Regions from separate parts of the Homo sapiens genome. Here regions 2 and 3 are each linked to region 1. Evidence: fine-mapped expression QTL. A gene starts in region 1. Each other region holds a variant in brackets. All regions are shown on one strand. Distances are from middle to middle.

Region 1 (7,307 bases):
AATGCAGAGAGGAGGAGAGTTGTGACTGTGAGTCTGCCAGGAAGGCTGCCCCAGTCTGTGGACTGTTGTGCAGTAGCAGGGTTTACAACTGGGTGAGGTACAAGAGTGGTGTTCAGTTGGTCAAAACAAAACAGAGAAGTAAAAGTTTAACTGCAGGAACAAGTCTCCAGGGAAGAGGAACAACAGCACTTAGAAGTCAACAAAGAATTCTCAAAGTCATCCCCAAAGCAAAGAACCCTGGATCTACTCATCAGCAAAGAAAACCTAAAGAACAAAACTGGGAACCCAATGGTTCACCTGAGATTCTTAGGTATGGAAAAATGGCTAATTCTAAGCTCCACTCACTGGCCAGGCTAGGGGCTATTATGTAATAACATTTTCTTATGTAGAAATCACTATGAAACTGAGCCTGTGACTGAACAGATAGGTGATTAGTGAAGGCTGGCAGAGTAAGAAATGAGGTGAGGGACGACTAAGACTGTATTAACATATTTCAGAAGCCCGAAGCAATGGAAGAGACAATAGAGGTACCTCTGATTTATGTAATTCAAAGTAAAAATGAAAGGAATTTAAACAGAGTATTGTGCTTGTTTTCCCTATGATGAAAACATATTGAGTGCTTTAGTAAAGTATTAAATATTTTTAAAAATCTTGGTAACCTGATCACATGTCTAAATTTTCTATAGACTAGATAAAAAGTAGGGCCTAATTCACAATATTTACACTTGGTCTGAAAATGAGTTTGCTAACAGATCCCCTGAAGGTTTCCTAGGAAATAGTTTGTGAACATCAGAACATCTTTCGAATATATCAAATCTTAGTGATATCCCTGTGGAGTCCCCTGAATGGTTGTGTCGTATTGCTTTGGTTAGATAACAGTGGAGACCCGGTGACTCTTAATTCCAAGTCCAGAGGAAAGAATGGCAATCAATATGGAAGACTGCAATTAAGAAACATTACTGCTATTAGAATGTAAATTACCACCTTCCTCCATTCAACATGTCTTCTTTCCAAAGCCACAGACTGCAGCAGCCTCACTTTTTCCTTTCTTAGAGCCATAGTCTTCCTCAGCCTTGTGCCTGTGATGCAGCCTTTGATAATTCTCGCAATAAAAACTCACTCATGTATGACATTTAGGAGGGAGCAAAAGGTTTGATTTGCCTTGGGGCCCTGGAACCATTATAAAAATGCCTTTAAAGAGAAATGAAAGGCAAAGAAAATTAGGGGCTCAGAAACTGACTGAACCAAAAAGGATGCCAAATCACTAGGCACTAGGCTGCCTCTCCAATAGTTCTAGATAAACAGAAGACCATTTAATATTGTTTTTTTCCCAAGAATCCAAATCAGTCTAAAAGCAGTTTCGATTGGAAAAGAGGAAGAATCAAGTGGCCAAGATGTAGCCTTTCAGTTTCAATGGTCAAAGCAAAAAAAAAAAAAAAAAAAGTCTTAAGACAGACTTTGGGCATCACTGGAGTATAAACATTTAAAGAACAGGGTTCTTGTCACTCCATGTCACAAACATGCCTAAAATTTCAAGAAAATCTCAGCTTTCACTAAGCGGCCCGTCATAGCAATAAGAGGCTACACTCTTTCCACAAAATCTATTCCAGTGAAATATGGCCCACTCACATTTTCATTTAGCTTTCTCTTGGTTCCTTCATTTGGCTGTGTTCTATTTCCTATTGAGTGGAGTCTTTAGTTATAAGCTTTCCTTAGTGTTATTTAGAAGGCAGCCACTTTTCTCTCCAAGCCCCTTTCATTGAGTGTGAGCCAAATATCTGCTACTCACACTGCCTTAAATTCAGGGACTCTAAGTAATTTTTGGTAGAGGACATATTCTAAAAGAGACAGTGACCTTCTGTCTCTCCCCACAGGTCATTCTGTTTATATCCACTAGTAAGTGTAGTCTAACCAAGTTGGTGTGGAAAGTAGCTTCCAAGAAAATTTAACTTATAGCAAGGAAAGAAAAATGTTCTTAGGCAAGAACGATTCCTGCAAATTTTATAAGACGTGAAGCAGCTTAGAGTGTCCTCTACAAAGCCAGTATCCAAGACTGCTGGCAACAGACCCGACTAATTAAAGTGAGGTCCTCATTCAGACGGCCTCAGCATCACTTCAACACTTGCCTACCCCAGGCCTGCTCCAGGTCTATTGAAAAAGAATCTGCAATCCCCATGTGATTCATACTCACATTCATGTTTGAGGAGTATTGGCCTAGAGCAGTGGTTCTCAACCTTCATTGCACATAGGAATCAACCAGGCATCTTAAAAACAAATTAAGGCTGTCTGGGGCCCACCTGCAGAGAGTCAAAGTTAATCAGTTTGGGGGTGTGGCCTAAGCACTGGGATTTTTAAAAACGGCCCAGGAGATTCTGAGGTGCAAGGAGGGTTGAGAGCCACTGGCACAGGGGCAGAAGAGGCTATTTCTTCCATTCCGCCCCCTCTTTGTTGCGGAGGCAAACTGAGGTTCCTGGAGTCAGAATCTATCAGTCGTGGTGACTGCCCTGGTTGCACTGTAAGTATGGGGGGACGTCTCCACGAAAAAAAACTAACTTTCTGCCTTGTGCTCTGCAGGTCCCTCCTTCTCCCACCTTCCCCAAGTAGCTGCTCCTGACCCCCCCACACACCTTGGCAAACGACACCAGTGGCCGATAGCAACTGGTGTTTTAAAAATACTAATTTGGAGCCCCATTTGAGACCTACAACGGGAGAGTCTGCATCAGATTCGGCCTCAGATTCTACAGCATCTGACTACATTCCCAGGTGTGTGTGATGCGCAGCCAGGTTTGGAAGCTAGTGAACTCCACAGTAGGTCTAGCCTTTCACCACGTGAAGTCATTAAGGGTTTGTAAGAATGAATGAGCTGTCAAGAGAGGAAAGGCCTGGTGCAGTGTTCCTTTATTAATTATGAGGAAAGTGATTTATTGGCAATGATAATGCTTCTCTTGGAAAGGGCAAAGAATGGTTCGTCGATTGCTGCATTAGGTTTTTTCCCACTCAACCTTAATGCTCGGCTTTTACTCCTCACTGTAGTTTAAAACCAGCACGCCTTTCACACGAAACAGACTCTGGGTCTTTATTCCCAGGTGAAACGCATCTTTGAGGGAAATACCAACACAGAGACTCTGTCCCAGTTCTTGGCCGGGGGACACCCTCCCCCGAATATCTCTGTTTGCTTGTGTCAGCATCTAGTAGCCAACGTATAGTTGTGCATATCTGATACGTAGAAAAACACAGGGTGAGGATTAAAAAAAAAATCATTGATATATGCCCAGATCCTTTTGCTAAAAGAAAGCTTCCTTTAGCAGAAGGGCAGGAAGTGAGGGAAGAAAGATAGTTGGATTAACAAAGTCAGAGGTGAGAAACGGGTAGGCGAATTGGGGGTCAGGGTTCTGTCTGCGGAAGAGAAGAAGAGGGTTCAAAAGAAAAGTTGCAGCGCCTGTGTGCGCGTGTCATCGATGGGCTGGGTGCGAGAGACAGCGCTAGCGCGCGGCCACAACGCACTGCGGGGCCGAGAGCCGGCAGGAAATCGAAAAAGCTGCTCGCCGGCAGAGGCTGGGAGGCTGGAAGGGCTCCCCACCCGCTCGGTGCTCCAGAAACGCGCCGGCTTTGCCCCGACGCGATCGCCTGGGGAGCCCAAGGGGCGCGCAGGGGGCCCCGGGGCGCCCGGCAGCCGCGGGGCCGAGCGCGCGTGTGAGCGAGTGCGAGGCTGCGGGCGGCGGGCGGGCGAGTGTGCGCGGGAGGGAGGGGGAGCGCGCGCGCGCCCGGGCCCCGGCCCTCCCAGCCTCCCGGCCTCCGCGCCTGCCTCCCGCCCGCGCGCACCGCTGCCCGCTGCCGCGGCTCCCGCTCGCGCCGGCGCTGCACGGTAGTCAGCCCGCCGCCGCCGCCTGCTTTGTGCTTCCCACAGAAGATGGGAGCGACCTCTTCCTGATCGGGAGCTGTTTAAAAGGAGGGAGTGCGCCGTATTTTCTACTAGCGTGGAGGAACGGAGGAAGAATCCATTCACACTCCCCAAACCAGGTAGGATCTTATGATGGACAGGCAGAAGGCATTTAGTCAGAGACCAAGAACTATTTTCCATTTGCTGCTCATAAGGCTACACTTCCCTCTGCTTTGGCAAACGAGCGGCTTCTAAATTTGTGTGTGTGTGTGTGTGTGTGTGTGTGTGTGTGTGTGTGTGTGTGTGATGTGGTGTGTGCGCGCCTGCACATTTTTCTGGGTGTCCGCGCTTCCCAGAGTGAAATTGCTCGGGCTGGTGCGTCTGGGCGTGAGGGTGCCTGCCTGCCTGCCAGTGCAGGCTGCCGGAGGAAGAAAGGGCTGCTAAGGAGAGATGCTGCACCCTGCACCGCGCTGGGCTCTGAGGATTCAGGGCGCGAAGAGCTAAGTCCACCCCGAATGCAGAGCTGCTGGGGATCCAGGCGTCCCCACCCACTGGACTCTTCTCCGCGGACATCCCTCCTTCCGGTAATCCCTGGGGTCTTTCCCCAAGGCCACATTTCCGAGCCCCCTGTTTTCCAGCGGGCGTTGGGTGCTCATTCACCACGGACTGCGGAGAGGAGGGAGGTGTGGCGGGGCAGAGACAGACGAGGAAGAAATGTAGGGGGTAGCAGGGAGTGGGCTGCGGGGTCCACGTCTCTGGGCACTGTGCCGTGGTGTGCTTTGGGGATTCTGCACACACAGGCATCTTTCCCCAAGAGATTGGAAGGGAACTTTGCAGCTGCATTCTCTGCCTCTGGAGCTTTGCTGGCTCTTGGGGGAAATGGTCTGTGTTCTGAGATGTGAAGATATCCTTTTTGGCTCCTCCTTAATGAAGAAGAGGGCGGTCTTATAGCTGGACAGCCGGCCAAAGAAACCAAATCCGCCCAGGCGATGCTCTTGAAAATACAGTACGTGTGCATCCTTGATTCTTTAAATCCACCCCCTGCATCACCCCCGCCTCTTCTCTATCCCCCCCACCACCCCGTGGATTCTGTTGCTGTTTGATGAATGGCTTGGGCTGGCAATTTGTATTTCCCTCTCCAAAGTGGTAGTGGTTGAGTTGAGAACAGGGGTGATGAAATTTAACAAAGCATTTTTAGAAGAGAGCAATGTGCATGTTGTACGCAGTCATTGGAAAGTCATGCTTTGCGCTAGGTATCCTTTTGAAGCCCCCGAACCTGGCTCTCCTGAAGCCGCTCTCTCTCTCTCCTGCTAGTCAGCTACTAGTGGTTGTGAATATAACAATACAAACTTTGTCCTGCTGGAGGTGTAAAGACTAAAAAGAGAAAAAAAGGATATCAGTGGGAGGTGTAGTGGAAGAAGCTTTTTAAAAAATGACAGATGTGGTGAAGACAGTACAAGCGTCCTGATCATGGAGGAGCCTCTAGCTGAGTAGGTGGAGATTTCTGATCAGATCTGGTTAAAGGCATTGCTGGAGTATCTCCAGATATGAGCAGTTGAACATGCACAATCTGAGACTTGTGCGAAGATTTCCCAAGGGAAAGAGGGAGCCACCAGGAGAGAATTCTGAAAGTATACCTCTCTTTCCCATGCCCCCACCAGCGCGCGCGCGTGCACACACACACACACACACTCACATGCTTTCTCTTTCTCTCTCAAAGCTACTCCTGCAGCGAGTCAGAAAAAAAAAGGAAAATGAATCTAGATGTTTCATTCATTTCAAATAAGAAGACAAAGCCGGAAGAGGGATGATTGGTTTTAGGTTCCTCTTTCAAATCCTGTGTTACTTGGATTGAGCTCCCTGGGTTTGCTAAACTTGCTTAATTGGGAGGTTAGGCGGGTGTGAAAGCAGGAGGAAGGAAGGGAAAACTAGCTCCATCTTTGGGGCCTTGTGAGTGAGAAGGTGGGGGAGGACCAACTTATTTCATCAAGAGGCAAGATGTGTGCTCTTAAATGGTTTTCGTTTTACAAATTCTGCCTGCTTGAAGAATTCCATTTGGATCTCACGGCTCTTTAGCTAAGATTTCTCACACCTGCTATAAAAGAAGCCCTGATTTTGTCCCCTTAAAATGGTTGTTGTCTTTTTTTAAAAAAATGATTAATTCCTAGAAAAACAACAGCAACAAAAAGGACTGAACAGAGATAAACCATTATTTATTGTTGAGCTGTATAGGGCTACAAAGGATGTAAGAGTGTCATGATAATCAGACTTTACTGTCTTGAAAGCTTAACAGGGCTGAAGGAGGAGAGTAATGAACTAAAATATGAAGGCTTATTTTCTATGTATCTATCTACCTATGTCTTTACTTTAATATTATTATATAGTGGTTCCTACTGTAACGTTTCAGATTAAGCACATAGCCCTTTTGTTGACCAGGGGAAGAAAAGAGCATGGGAGTAACAGTGCTTTGACTCCCAATAAAATTACAAATGGAAAGTGAGGTATAGTCAGTAACATCTATAGGACTATTTGCAGGAATTATGTTAATTGCTCTGTTAAGCTTTCTGTGTTTTGAAAAAATAAAATATATTCCAAGAGAACTTCAGCATCTGTTAAAAAGCTATGTTTAACATGCTTTTGCCAGGCAAATATAGACTTTTATTTACTTGCAAAATAAACACATGATTCCTCTTAGTATTCAATCTATTTCTTTGACAAAATAAATGATGAGAAAAGCTGTGCAGATCCAAGGAAGTTGCAATTCCCCTTTAAAAAGCCAGCCAAGGCATTCATTTAGCTCATAGATGTGGTTGTCTCAAAGTAAGTGCATTTTGGGACATTAATGTCTGTGTGTTTTTTTTTGTTGTTGTTTTTTGTTTTTTGTTTTTTTTTTTTAATGTTGCAATTCAGTGAGACAAGTTCTTTCTTTGTGATGCCTTTTAGGTACAGGGAGGATAGTATATAGATAAGAAGGAGACTGCCCTAAAAATATGGCAATAAACAAAATTCAAACTGAAATATAAATTAGATCTGGAAAAAGAAATGCAGCCTCTAGAAGAGGCTGTTAGAGCACATATGTTGCATGTTTTATATTTTCGTAGTATGTTGCTTTCAAGTAAACATTAAATTGTCACTTTATATTTGCTAAGAATTTAGGAATCAACATGCTATTATCTCTCTACTCTTCCTGGTCCCTTTATCTTTTTGTTTTTGCCCCCAAGGATAAATGTGTTTTGCTAAAATATTATCCAAATATCACCCATACTTGTAGTTAAATCCTTCATCATAACCTCCCATACCTCATACACCCCTCATCATAACCCCTACCAAATGGTCTCCCATCTGACCAAATTCTACTGCTCCCTCTTGTGGCAAACGTTCTGCCTGACTTTCTCTGGGTTCCAGAATCCTATCTGACATCACTTAT
Region 2 (7,307 bases), 130 kb before region 1:
TGAAAATGTCCACGAAATGGAGAAAACATCCTTTGTAGCCATTTTTGACAATACAATTACTTTACTGATAACTTGATGGCATTAGACTGAAAGTCCCAGCTCAAACTGGGCCAGAATTGCTCAAAAAATCAAGAATCACTTACCATTCAAAAAGTCTGTATTTTAATTTTTTTTGGTCAAAGAAGCAATAACTGATACAATATGGCCAGTCCTAATTTCAGAATTAATTCCCTTGGGCAAAAGCTACAGGAGAGAAAAGCTAATCCTAAAGTAGAAATTGACATTTCCAATGTCATTAATAAAGTGATTTGCTTTGGCCGCAGTCTCCACTATCTAGATGGCATTTGATTTGCCTGTGGTGCATGGGAATTTATTAGCAGAAAACTCTTTACTGTGGTGGTAGTGGCAATGACTGCTATTTTTAAGACAATTAACATTTACTAGATTAATTCTACTCAATCTTCTTTAATTCCAGATGTTGTAAATGAGTGAAATTTCTGCAATTACTCTTATTTTGAAGAAAGTATTAATGTTTGCACCCATGTGTGTGTGGAGCACAGAAGCAAGACAGAAACTAGAATGATTTCATACTTCGTAACGGAGACCTTTGCAACTATGAAAGTTACGTCTCTGCTCCCTAAAAACTACTGCCTACTCTCCCCATTTCAAGAGAAAACTATAGGTACACATCACGTCTTAGAGTTACAGAAATTACAGATATTGATGCGAATTAATAAAAGAAAAAATGTGATTTATCACAGAGGACAGAGCCAACAATCTACTTTTTAAAATAGTGGCAATAGCAATAATATTTTCCTTTATGTCTGTTTGGTGTTTCTTCAGTTTTAAGTATGAATTGTGATGATTAGATCACAAAAATGAAATCTATCCAAATGGCACTGAGATATTTTGGCTGCCCATGCAGAGGAAAGGTGAAACAATTGTGGCTGGTAATGAGTATATTTTAATGGCTTCATACCAAGAAAATCATCTGGCACATAGAAGCCTACCTGGCTGAACTAATATCCTAAGAGAGGAATTATTTTGGAGGAATAGTAATAATATTTATATATTTAGTTTATGTAAAGCTTCTCAGATTTGGTTATCCATCTCTTTTTGGCATTTTGAAGTGTCCTTTGTCATTTTATCATGTAGTACCTATTTTAAATAATAAAAGTACTATTATGTATATCCAGAATTAACTAAGTGTCGGACCTGTATTTGTCATGAGACACACATAATCTCATTGTGGTAGGCAAAATAATGGCCCTGCAGAAATATTCACAACCCAATCCCCAGACCCTGTGAATATGTTACCTTACATGGTGATATGGTTTGGCTGTGTCCTCACCCATATCTCATCTTGGATTTTAACTCCCACAATTCTCATGTGTTGTGGGAGGTGATTGAATTGTGGGGACAAGTGTTTCCTGCACTGTCCTCATGATAGTGAATGAGATCTGATGGTTTTAAAAAATGGGAGTTTCCCTGCATAAGCTCTTTTTTTTTTTTTTTGCCTGCTGCCATCCATGTAAGATGTGACTTGCTCCTCCTTGCCTTCTGCATGATTGTGAGGCCTGCCCAGCCATGTGGAACTGTGAGTCCAGTTAAACTTCTTGCTTTTATAAATTGCCCAATTTCAGGTATGTCTTTATCAGCAGTGTGAAAACAGACTAATATATATGGCAAAGGGGACTTTGCAGATGTGATTAAGATTAAGGAACTTGAGATGGAATGATTATCCTATGTTATCTGGGTGGGGTCACTCTAACCACAAATCCTTTCAAGTAGAGAATCTTTTCTGGTGTTGTAAGAAATCCAGAGGAAGGAAAGTGTAAGGAGGCCTCTATCTACCCTTGCGGGCTTTGAAAATTAAGGATGGGCGGGCAATGATAATAAGCCAAGTAATGTGAGAAGTCTTGAAAACCAGAAAAGAGCAAGAAATCATATTTTACCCATAACCTGTATAAAAGAATGCACTATGCTCACATCTTGATTTTAACTTGGTAAGAGTCTTGTCAGAATACTCATCTATAATACTATAAAATAATAATACATTTGTATTGTTTAAGCCCCCAAGTTTGTGGTAACTTATTGTAGAATCAATGGAAGATCAAGATACTCATGAAATTCCTACAATTTCTTGGCAAGTGTTTAGCATTTTCTTAGTTTTACAGATATCAAAAATGAGGCAAAGAACAATTTATATAATTTGTCAAAGATGACATAAGTAGCCAGTTGCAAATCCAGACTTAGTATCTAGGGTGTTGGTGTTTGATGATTCTTTCAGAATGATGTGATTTTATGTGTGATGCAAAATTAAGTGATATACCATCCTTAAGTCAGAAGAATGGCTAAACTAATCAAGTAAATAATTCAAATATAAATATAATAAGGTTATATCATTTTTGCTGTTCAAACTAATAAAAACAGTTGAGAAAAAAGCTTTAATCACAAACAGTTATCTAGAATAGTCAATACTCATTACAAAAAAATGATATTCTAATGGGTTAATTGGATTTTTAAATTTAAGAATGAAGAATAGATACAATAAAAAGACATTATAGCTAGTATTGGCAAGGAATGGAGAAGTTGGAATCCTTATGCTTTGCTGATGGGAATACAAAATGATGCAGTGTTTTAGAAAACTCTGGGAGTTCCACAGAAGTTATTATAAACATACAATTATCATATGATCCAGCAATTCCACTGTAGACATATATCCAAGAGAATTGAAAGCATCCCATCTACACAAATGTTCACTGTTGCATTATTCATAACAGCCAAAAAGTGGAAACAACCCAAATGTTCAACTGACAAGTGCATAAACAAAATGTGATATATCCATAAAATGGAATATCACTCAACCATAAAAATAAATAAAGTGCTGATTCATGGTGCAACATGGATGAACCTTGACAAAATCATGCTAACTAAAAAAGTCAGACACAAAAGGCTACCTAATATGGGATCCCATGTATATAAAACGTCCAAAGTAAGAAAATACATAGAATATCAATCAGCATTAAATAGCTGCTAGGGGTTGGGGCAGAGAATAGTGTGGAGTGACTGCTCAAGGGTATGGAATTTCTTTTGAGGATGATGAAAATATTCTGGAATTAGTGATGATGGTTTCACAATATTATGAACATACTAAAAATCACTAAAAGATGAGTGTTGTGATATGTACATTGTATCTTAATTAAGAATAAAATAACTGAAGGGATATATTTGGAAATCCAAACAAAAAATACAGATACAGGGAGCTTAAAATTTGGTAATCAAGAGTTTATCACTGATACTTGCTACTGTAGTCTGAATAAATTGTAGTCATCATGTTCATATGTGATATCACATCACTGAGGATATAATAAAGGCCAGACAACCTGAATTCAATTTAGATCATTACAATGTCAATAGAAGAGTTTTAAAATATATTTATGATTTCTAAATATCAGGATATAATTACAAGAAAATTAGACACAAATTGATTTAAGCTACATTTATAAATGCAAATGCATTCACATTTAAGGTTAGTACTTTGTCCTTGTCTGAAACTGTCTTGTTTGACTTGAATATTCTATTGATTTGCTGTCTCAGGGTTTGCTAGCACGCTATATTAAGGCTTTAGTTTCTGAACATCGCTGTTTATCCTAGAAAATCTGCATGCACTATATCACATGAAAATTTAATTGAGGCATATGTTGTATAATAAACGAC[G/A]TTAGCCTGGCATTATACCTAGCAAAATTTGTTCTATTTGCTTACAGAACAATATCTCTATTGACTATACTCATTCATTGTTAATGAGCTTCTTACTAAAGGATACTGGAATAGTTTCCATAATATTCTTAGCAAATAAAATAATGGAATATAAAGAAACTTAGGAGACTGAATTTTCTATCAAGTTCCCAGAAGTATTACTTCAGTATTTACATATAAAGTCACTCTATTTTTGGATGCTGGGTCCTCCCGTTAAAAACCAGAGGAATCATGCCAACATGCCCACCGCACATGCATCATCAGCAAGACTATCAGCAGAGGGAAGACCCACAAGAAATAACAGGGCAGTCCAGGCCAGGAACTGTGCAGACACTCAAGCTTTCTAGAGAACGGGTTTGAGGAATTGTCTTTTTTCTATAGACTGTTGAAACATATCAGAAACATCTGAGGAGTTTAAATGTAATCTATAGCAATCCCCCTCTCACCCTTAATAACTGCAAAGTTACCTTCAAATTTAGGGCTTTGACTACCTATAAAGGTTGCTTATTTTGGTTTTGAGGACACTGACAGTATTCCACAAGTTTACCTTATTCTGTAGCCCCCAAAGTATAAATTCCAGGTTTTTTGCTTGGTACCTGCTTGTCTTTCAGGAGCTTTCATTCAGTAATTCAATAAAAACCTTTCATTCTAGGTGTGAAGCAATTAGAAAAATATACCAAGGCCTGGAACTCTCTTATTTGACTTCTGGCCCTGACTCAAATTTAAAGGGACACTGAATTCAATTTTGAAAGATGAGTAGTCAGATATAGGGGTGGATCTGTGAAGACCATTCCTGAAGGAGAAGAAGTACAACAGGAAGGTTGAAAATCATTTGGATATATGGTGGCTTGAGGGATTATTTTCCTTGTACTACTCCACTTTCTTTATCTTCTCTGCTCTGCGCCCCAGAGCTACCTTTGGACTACCTAAAGGATTGTCTCAACCAGTCTTGTTGCCTTCTAGTTTCCAAATGGACTCTGCCAATGAGAAATATGATGGAGATTGAAAGAACAGAGAACAGTTGGGTCAGGCTACTTATTCTCTACTCCCCAACTCCCTCCCTGCTGAAACACGGGTTATAGCTGTGAACTTCTACTGAAAATCTCCAGTTGGCTATCCTCTTCTTCTTTGTCAGCTCCAACTATAACTTCTCCTGACAGACTGTGGAGAGAAAAGATAAAGAGTTTGACAAGGACCAGATCACAAAGGGACATAAATGTCATGGTAAGAAGTTGTTTTTCATATAATTTCATTTATGCATGAAATATCCTGTACTTCCTTCTTTCCCATTAATTAATTTGTCCCAGCACCAAACCCACACTGTTTTAATTCCTGCAGCATTACTTTATGCTTTGACATTTATTAATCATCATATGGGTTTTCAAATTTTCTGGGTTATTTTTATCCAAATTCTTTTGGAATCAACTTTAGAATTTGTTTATTCTATTTAAAAAGAAAAAAAGCCAGTTGGGAATTTGAACCTTCTTTTATATATTTTAGTAAGTTAAAAGAGTTTCCTTCTTATGACTTATCCAATTTAGGCAGGACTGTAATCAACTGCAATGACTATGGTCAGGGATCTGTCTTTCCATCTCTGATGTCTGGTTTCTTCTCACTGGGCTCCTTCCTGCTTCTCAGTCAGCATCTTCCTACACAGGATCAAGACGGCTATAAGCAGTTTGAAGATTCTGTTACAAACATGCAACTGTTCTGAAATGGGTGTATTCCTTTGTTCTAATAGTTTCCAAAATTTTCTGTAAGGGTTTCATTTGCCCTACATGAGTAACATACCCAACCCTGAGCTAATCTCGGTCACCAGTGAGATAGAATGTCTTGACTGGTCAAGCCCAAACCTGAGTCCACCACAGCAGGTTGAGTTATCTCTACCTGAATCATGGAAAATAGGGTCGTTCTGAAGATCAAATCCAGATGCTGTTATCAAAATCAGAATATATTGATTTAGGTAGTCAAAAACAGAAAATGTCCACTACATACACCACAATATCTTATTGTTCCTTATTTCTTTTATGTATCTCCTTTCTCATCTTAGATTAAACTTTATTTGTGACATATATATGTTTTCCTTTAGCAGTTTGACACTTTACATCGTATTTTCACCATTCCAGTGGATAGCCCTTCAAAATGGTCATTTAGTAACATTACTTGACTGACCAGAATCCGAACCCCCATCAAAGGGATTTTCACACTCTGTTAGTCTTCGTGGAATCCAAAAAGCTAAATGTTTGTTCTCTCTATTCCCTGGCACCTAGAAGCAGGCAAGTATCAGATTCAACCGATGATATACTTTTGCCTGAGACATTGAATAAGTGACAAGGAACAGTGATGTTAAGAATAGATTATAGTTCATTCTGTCAGTCGATTGTGGAATATGGCATCCAATGGCATCAGGAGCAAGAATGGCCTCCTATGTCTATTTATAGGATCAACAACAGCACGCTAAGTAGATAAGTTCTGTGGTACAACAGTGACTTTGTTTCTGGATAAACACCTTCTCTTCATTCCTGCCTATTTCCTGAGCCCTACCTAGTCTTCAGCCTTCTCCTGGAGATACGTAATATCCTTCAACTAAATCAATTTTTCTGCTGAATGTAGCAATCATCAATTTATGAGGCTTCAACCCCGGACCCCGCCTAATAAAACGTTAAAACTTTGTACACATTTTAAATATATTTTAATTGCATAGAATCACTGGATATAAATATGCAGATAAATATATGATTCATTTGAGTAAGTATCCAAGGGGTGCTGTAAGAAGAAGTAGGAATCTGTAGGTATTATGTTAATTTATATCTAGAAAGAAAAATTATAGAACCAATTCACTAACTTTTTTAAATTTAGAAAATTATTCACACAAAAAAGAATATATACTATACAGTGAAATAATTTTTAAAACTCAAAATATTCCAAAGAAGATCAGTGAAATCAGCACAATATATACAAATGCACATATAAAAAGGAGACAGTGTTTATTTTAATAAATGAGTATAGCTATTATAGCAGAAGTTAGTATAACAATCTAATGAAAAACCTTAGGTTTAATTAGGAAAAATAAATATAAATAATAAATATGAGAAATATTGATCCTAAATCCACTAAAATATAACAATATATTATGAACAACTTTATGCCTACACATTAAGGAAGTTAGATAAAATTTGTAAGGTACACCAGAAACATAACAAAATGACACAAGGAGAAACTGAAAAATTGAATAAACTCATAACTAATAATGAAATGTCATTACTAATTAAAGATTTTCTTCAATGAAAATTCGATGCCAATATAGCATTACCAGTAAATTACCTTAAATGTTTAAGGAAGAAATACTAATCTTACATGAATTCTTCCAGAAAAAAAGAAAAAATATTACCCAATTTATTTCATGTGGTCAAAATAATTTTGATGCCAAAAATTGAAAAAAGATATATAGACTAATGTCTCATGAAAATAAATGTAAAAAACATTAAAAATTTAAAAACTAAAAACTGTAACAAACTCTTATTAGAATATATTAAAAATAAAAATAC
Region 3 (7,307 bases), 57 kb after region 1:
AAAATTGTGTTAGTGGGTCACCTTAATGGTATGATAGTGGATATTATTTTCTTCTTTCTGTTTATCCACATATTCTGCTTTTTATAATGAAATTGTATTGCTATTGTAATTCTTTAAGTTACTTAAAATTTAACTACATACAGTAGAAAAACAAATATACCACCAATAACCAGGAACAAGACAGTACCATGACATATGGTGAGGAGTGGATCTAGATATGATACACGCGTTAGTAACATAGGTCAAAAGACTCTGCTGGTAGTGCTGAGAGACTCCTCTAAAAAGCCAGCCAAACTGGAGGCCAGATCAGCAAGAGGAATTGAAGAAGCTGACCAAGACTAGGGAGAAGGGACCAAGGCACGTTGTACTTCTCTTGAGCCTGGAATCAGGTTTGCATTGGAAATAAGCTGGAAAAGAAAAAGTGGCTCCATATTTTAAGAGCTAAAAGACTGTGGGTACTTCTGGGTTACTTTCTTTCAATAACTGCAGAAGAAATGCTGTTTCTCCAAGCTGGCACTGGTGTCAAATGAACAGAGGGTCTCCCCATTCTGTTATTTTCCTGGCAGTTGAAACATCCGTTGGCTCAGCTGTTTAATGTGTAAGTTCAGTGTCCCACAGGCCATTCTCCATAAGGCAGCAGCTACCCAACCATGATAAATTTAGTGTCAGGTCTGCATTCAGAGCACACTGTGTCCCACTTTAAGAAATTGCCCTGGGTCATGTAGCTAGTTGTAGAAGTCTGTGCAAATGCTGGTGATTCCCAGGGAAGAAAGATAATATTTTTCTTTGACCTGGATCTCTGTTTCTATTGATTCTCAGAGTGGTTCTCCTGGTGAGAATCCTTTCCACTTCTGAATGCTTTGTGCCACTTGTCTCAGGGTAGGGCCTGAGTATTGTCACATTTATGAAACTATACATATGTGGTTCTGATATGCAGCTAGCATTCAGAAGACTGATCTGGAACGGTCAGGCTCGGCAAATGTATGTGGATACATAGTAATGATAACATGAAAACTTTCAAGTGCGTAGATGGTTTCACACCCACAATCAGTTGACAGTGCTTCTTGTGTTGATTACCCACCTGTGAAAATGGATTTGCAGCAATTCCTCTTCCCTAGTCCTCACTGTGAGCAATGGAAAACTTAGTTGAGATGAGCTTTGACTATGGAATGAGACAAGCCAATTATTCCATGTTGGAACTGCCTCTGAATTTTATTATCTATAATGCTTGTTTTTATCAACTTAGAAAACTGACCTGAAAGTCATAAGCTAAACCATCAATGGGCACATTAGCTCATGACATGTATACACTAGCAGCTGACAGTGGAATACAATTCAGAAAGAGAGAAAAGGAAGGGGTGGAGTCAGACACCTTCTTGGATATCTACTATGTGCCAGGAATTACTTTAAACACTGTGTATCTGTTCTCATTCAATCCCTACAACAATACTTCACCTTTTTTCTGTTCAATAAAATTAACTGATCCACGGATCCACTCTTTGCACAGAGCACTGAAATATTCTCATCAGCAACTTTCAGTTAAGCAATATTTAGACATTACTTTTCCAGGGCCATGGAAATTGCAGATTTAAACCCTGAAACCTGTCAAACCTTGTGCAAAATGACAAAGCCCACCTCCCCTAACACCGTCCTGAACAGTGGATCCCTGTGGACTAGCTAGAAGACCAACCCAAAAAGTCAGGTCATTATCACTGGAATAATTGTCATTGATACAGCAACTACAGTTTCTCTTGCTGGTTTGCTTCTTTAACTTCTCTTGTTTTTTTTTTTTTTTTTTTTTTTTTTTTTAGTTATTAGAGATGATGGAGGTTAAAAGGATGCTGCTTAACAAAGATAAAAGCTCACTTAGACTAGTAATCTTTTTTTCTTTTTAAAGAAACATAGGATTACAGAAATATTTAATGAATTAATAAGGTACTTCTCAACACATTTTTTTCATTGCCAACTAGTTTTTCCAGGTTATGTACATAATTGAAAAAGTGTTGTGTTGCGTGTTATGCTTTGATGCAGTCTTGTTTTGTAATCCATTGCTTTCAAATTTCTATCATCATCTTCTAATTATCTTAAATTTGCACTGTGCTACTAGAATAGAATGATGGTATTATTACTATTATTACTGGCAGCAGAATTGAAACCTGGAGTATAAGTGGTTTGCAGACCATTCATAGATTCATGTAACCGTAGAGATTCATGGTTGAGTAGTTGAGCACCTGACTTCTATGGGAAAAGCAGCGCTCTTCAAGTTACTGCCTAATTAACAAACACACTTCATGGATTGAGGATTTAAAGGGGAAGAATGGTCATGCTTAGTACAATTGAATGCATATTTGCTACTAATTACATATACCTCACATTTTCTCTTAGAGACCAACTGCTTTAAAAATATTTTATTAAATGTTTTTGTTACCCTGACAGAGATACATTCCTTTAAGGGTGTTTTCAGCAAAACATTCAAGTTTTCAGGAAGTATTATCTTTCTTTCCTTTTACCCCTTTCCCATTTCCATGAAATTAAAAGGAAATGCATAGCCAAGTGTTTTTTCCCAGAAGAAAATAATAAGAAATATGCTGATTTTACAGAACAGTATGAACAGTTATAAGGGTCTATGTAAAAGGCAGCGTGTGTTCATTCTCCATGCATACTATTAGTAAAAATGAATGGACTTTCTCCTCATCTGTTTTTATTTAGAGCAGGACCTTCTTGCATTGAATTTCCTGTGTCAGCTGTGTTCTAATTCTGTAAAGCCTTTGGTTAAGGAACAGCTCTGACTCTATATCCCTATCTTTTCCTTTCCCATGTCTTAATTTTGAGTTCTTATCACTCTGATAATAAGCAGACATTTCTGAAAATCAGAAATCCTGCAGTTCCACTTTAGTTTTTCTTTCTCTTCCACTACCTTTCCTCTCTTAGAACAGTAAATATGTCAGATGGGAACCTAAAGTCAACCTCTGTGCTGTCTTGCTCTGACTTAAATGCTCTCATCCAAGTAGGTGGCATTTCTCATGAGGGGCCAGACAGAGTTATGGAACACCACAAGCAGGGTAGCCTTCGGATTTGACTTGAGAAATTAGGAAGAATCTGGTGGTCCTGACTAAGAGTGCCAGTGATAAAAATCCAGGTGAGCACAGACCATTGTCATAAGAGGGGCCTGCACACAGTTCTAGATAGGTATGTTTACAGGAATTCGTGGTCTGAATAGCAGGGCTAGATCAGATTTGAGATCTGATTTACCTAATACTAGAAAGAATGTAGTCAGTCAGGAGACTCAGGCCGGACTTTTTATTTGATAAAGAAATGAAACTGTTGATGTTGGTTTCTTCAGTAGGATTTCTCTACTTCTTTTAGACTTCTCAAAAGGTTTTTGTTTCTTTAGTTGTTGCTTTTGTTGTTGTTCCCCTACCCTCAGAAGTAAGTAGATTAAGGTAAACTTTTGTCTTAAAGAGCACTGTCTAGTTAGTCCCTGTTTTCTGGACATCAGTGGTCTGTTAAATCTATAATCAGTAGGTGAATTTGTTTACACAGACATGAGCATTTGTGCACATCTTTTGTGGGACTTTGCAGAAAAGAAGAGAGATGTTACCTCCTCAGCTCCAGAATCTTTTACTTCAGTGTCTCATTTCCTCTCTGGGATTGGGGTAGAGTTCTTGGCACAGAAGATGCTAACAACTGACTTTCTGGGAGTCTTTGCACAAATGACAACTTCTGTGGCCTTCAACTTCCCCAAGCTAGCATGATGGGTAGATTAATATGTTCCTTTTTGGCAGGAATGGGAACTAATTTTTTTTTAAAGAAGGAGGAAAAAACACGTTGTGCTAAATCAGTGATTACTATGGCAACAGGCACTCTATACATGTTAGAAAAAAAGAAGAAAAATGCAATCACAGTTCTCTAAAGAGGAAGATAGCAGAAATAGGTTCACAAACTTTATTTTCAAAAATCAATAAATATGTAGTAGGCATCCACTATATGCTCTGTATAATCTTATCGAAATGTCTAACAGAAACTTGATGATAAAACCAAATCTGCCATTTGCTTGCTACCGCTCTGTTTCAGAAATTCACTCACACACCACACACACACGCACACACACACACTAACAGAAAAACCACAAAGAAATAGTATATACCATATTTTAAATAAAATAGTTAAATTTCAGTGCCCTGATGAATCCACGTTAGAAAAAGCAAATATCTTACTAGCTTATTGGGCAGAAATACCCAAGTTAGAACAAATTACTCTCCCTAGAATGGCTGTATTCACCCCCCACCCCACAAAATGCAGGTGTTTGCGTAACATGTTGCAACCGTGTTGGACACATAGTTCTTAATGTTAGTGCAGGGTTTCT[C/G]AACTTAAGCTCACTTAGACTAGTAACCTTTTTTTAAGCTCCGTTGACATTTTAGCCCAGGTCATTCTTCTTTGTGGGGGGCTGTCCTGTGCACTACTGTAGGATGTTTAGCAGCATTCCTGAGCCCTACACAAAATGTCAGTAGCATCCCCCAGACTGCCACAAGCAAAACTGTCTTCAGTCATTGACACATGTCACCTAAGGGGCAAGTCACCACTGGTTTAGAGCTACTGGTTTCAAGTAACCCAGCTGTGTTCTCAGGGCTTGTGGTGGGGTATTTGAAATAACCCATTGCCATGAAAAGGGTAATAGGCATAAAAATAAAAGCTGAACTTTATAATATTTTGGTTGATTGGGTGATTTAGGTTATGACTATTAGTGATTTTGCCAGTTTGGCTCTTTTATGACAGATCCTGTTATATAAATAAAATCACTAATTTTCCAACTGTAGTATCTAATTGTTACAAGCTGAATTTTGGCAAATCAAATGACACAAGGATAATATTCCAATTCTTTATTTTTTCACATTACACAGTTATCCCCCTAATTAGTTTTGCTGGGAGCACCCTCATATGGGTTTATATGGAATTGGAAACAATGTTGGTAAATTAGAGAGTACATTCAAAATTATGACTACACAGTGGAAATAAGAATGTAATAATCTTTTACAGCAAAGGCTGTACAGATTGTTTTAAAGGATTAAAGAAACAGTGAACTAAGGGATGACAGAAAATCATTTGGAACATAGCAATTCCACCCTTGAACCTGTAAATATCACATTATAAATTTTATATGTGAGATTTTCATTGTATTATACTACCAGATAAAGCAACCATAAACATAGATTGCTAAGTTTCTTAATGCACATGCTTTGAGAAATGACCTCAAAGCACAACTGGATAGCTGTTGGGATTTTTTTCCTAAGTAATACAGAGCTGTGAGGTTTGAAGTGTGTTCTAATCATTGTACTTTCGGAATTTTCAGAAAAAAATAGAGGTGATGCTAACTTGTATGTTTTGGATTTTGTAACTTTGTTCTTGACATGTTATAACTCTGTAAAACGGAGCTATAAAATAGATTAGACAGTTTACATATTTTTTAAAATCTGAATGAGTTCATATAGTTCAGCTAAAGATGAAACACTGATAAAATTCAGTCAGTATCACTATTGATTTGACAACATTTCTCCTGCTCCTCTTTTGTCTGCTGACTCCTGCCAGCAAAATAAAGTAGATTTACTAGTACACTATAATCTTTAGAGTTCTTACAAGGCACAAACAGTAAGTATTTAACTCTATGCAGGGTAAGAAGAAGTGAAGTGAGTAAAAAGTAGTGTAATCTGTCCCACTTTAACGTAAACATTAATGTAAATATTAATGCTGAAAGCCCTCCTTTGCTCCACAAATCATAACCATGATTTTTTATTGTCCTCTTCTCCGTTTTCTTTTTTCCGGTACTGTGATCATTGGCATTTCATTACTAACAAACAAGAGGGAATGTGAAGAAGGCAATTTAAAGGTTATATCAAGGAATACAAAATCTTGGAAGGCTGTGGAACTTTCAAAGATATTTTTAGTAAAAGCACACAGCAAATTGGTAGATCTTCAGCAATTAGCACTTACCCATGACAATTGATACCAGCCTGTTATGTCAAGCTGCTTGTGATACCACATAGTATTACTAAGATGCATAGGATGATTTCATTTTGCCCACTTTCATCAATAAATGAGCCTAAATATTTATGTTTCCTAAACTTCCCAAGATATTTCTCTTCCTTTCTTGAAAATCTTTAGGAATAGAGGAAGTTCCTAGCTATTGGTTCTCTGTTGAGTAATGCCTAGTGGGAACGGGTAGATAAGATGGCCTCTTGAGATTTACTCTTATTTAAATGTGATGATAAAGATCTTTAGGTTTTCTTGCTTGCTTGCTTGCTTGCTTGCTTGCTTCCTTTCTCTTTCTTTTTCTTTCTCTTTTCTTTTTCTTTTTCTTTTCTTTCTTTTTTCTTTTCTTTCTTCCTCTCTTCCTTTCTTTTTTCTTTCTTTTATTTTTCATTCTTCCGTTGGTTCATTTGTTCACTCTTTGTTCATTCTCGCTTTCTTTTTTATTTTTCTCCTTCCTTCCTTCTCCTTCCTTCTTATTTTGTTTGTTTGTTTGTTTTTTTAAGAGAAGGCAACCAGCATTTTGCTGTTTCCACTTAAGGACTGAATGAGAAGAAATAAGTCAAATTTGATCATCGATACTTTGTATTTATGCAGAACTAAACAATTCTAGTGACAAAGGACATTTAGTCAGTGGGGCGATATTGGTAGAAATGAAGCCTAGTGACATGAGGCTGAGGGCTCTGCCTGAAAATGTGGAACTTTGGGTTTTGGTCTTTGCGTGATGTGGTTAACACTTTTTGTCTACCTGATTTATTTTGTCATCTGACACGTGAAGGTATTTGGTTTCAGTGCCCCCTAAATTTTCCCTCAGGTTCTATAATTTGAGGGTCTGGGACTAAGAGTTCCAAGTTGTGGATATGGAAGCAGAATGATTGCTCCAGGGGCTCTTCTAGTCTCAGAAGACTTTGAAGTAAAGACTCTAGGAAAGAAAGAGCATGAAAGTCATAATGCTCTTATAAATTTTTAGGGATTTACAGGAGAAGTATTTATGGTTCCTGTCAAATTCCTTATGGCTCTATGATTACTTCACATTGAATGGAGGGAGAGAAATTCAGCTGTAATCTCCTAGTTTGCCACCAGCCAGAACAATTGGATTTTCTTCAAATAGGAGATTAGAGCTTCCAGAAAGTATTTCTAGTTCCATATGCTGCTTTCTTTTAAAAGGACACTTATTCCTATTTATTCAAATCCCTTTATGTCCCACGAACATCACTTTCCCTTTCTGAGTAGCAAATAAACTGCTTTTCTTCAAAGTCTTTCTCCCAGAATGGAATTACTTA

What was found.
Region 2: its variant is fine-mapped to the expression of SLC8A1 in whole blood (INTERVAL, PIP 0.97).
Region 3: its variant is fine-mapped to the expression of SLC8A1 in whole blood (TOPMed, PIP 0.91).

The regions. Positions count from the first base shown.
Region 1 is chr2:40,448,617-40,455,923 of GRCh38, reverse strand. It overlaps SLC8A1 (solute carrier family 8 member A1), which reads left to right and starts at 3,834. Exons shown (of 11, transcript NM_021097.5): 1 at 3,834-4,020.
Region 2 is chr2:40,575,228-40,582,534 of GRCh38, reverse strand. No RefSeq gene overlaps it. Among named protein-coding and RNA genes, the nearest start is that of SLC8A1, 130 kb to the right of the region's middle. The variant G/A (reference allele first, on the strand shown) is at 3,721.
Region 3 is chr2:40,391,251-40,398,557 of GRCh38, reverse strand. The region is part of intron 2 of SLC8A1 (solute carrier family 8 member A1); the gene reads left to right. It also overlaps the pseudogene LOC124905995. Among named protein-coding and RNA genes, the nearest start is that of SLC8A1, 57 kb to the left of the region's middle. The variant C/G (reference allele first, on the strand shown) is at 4,367.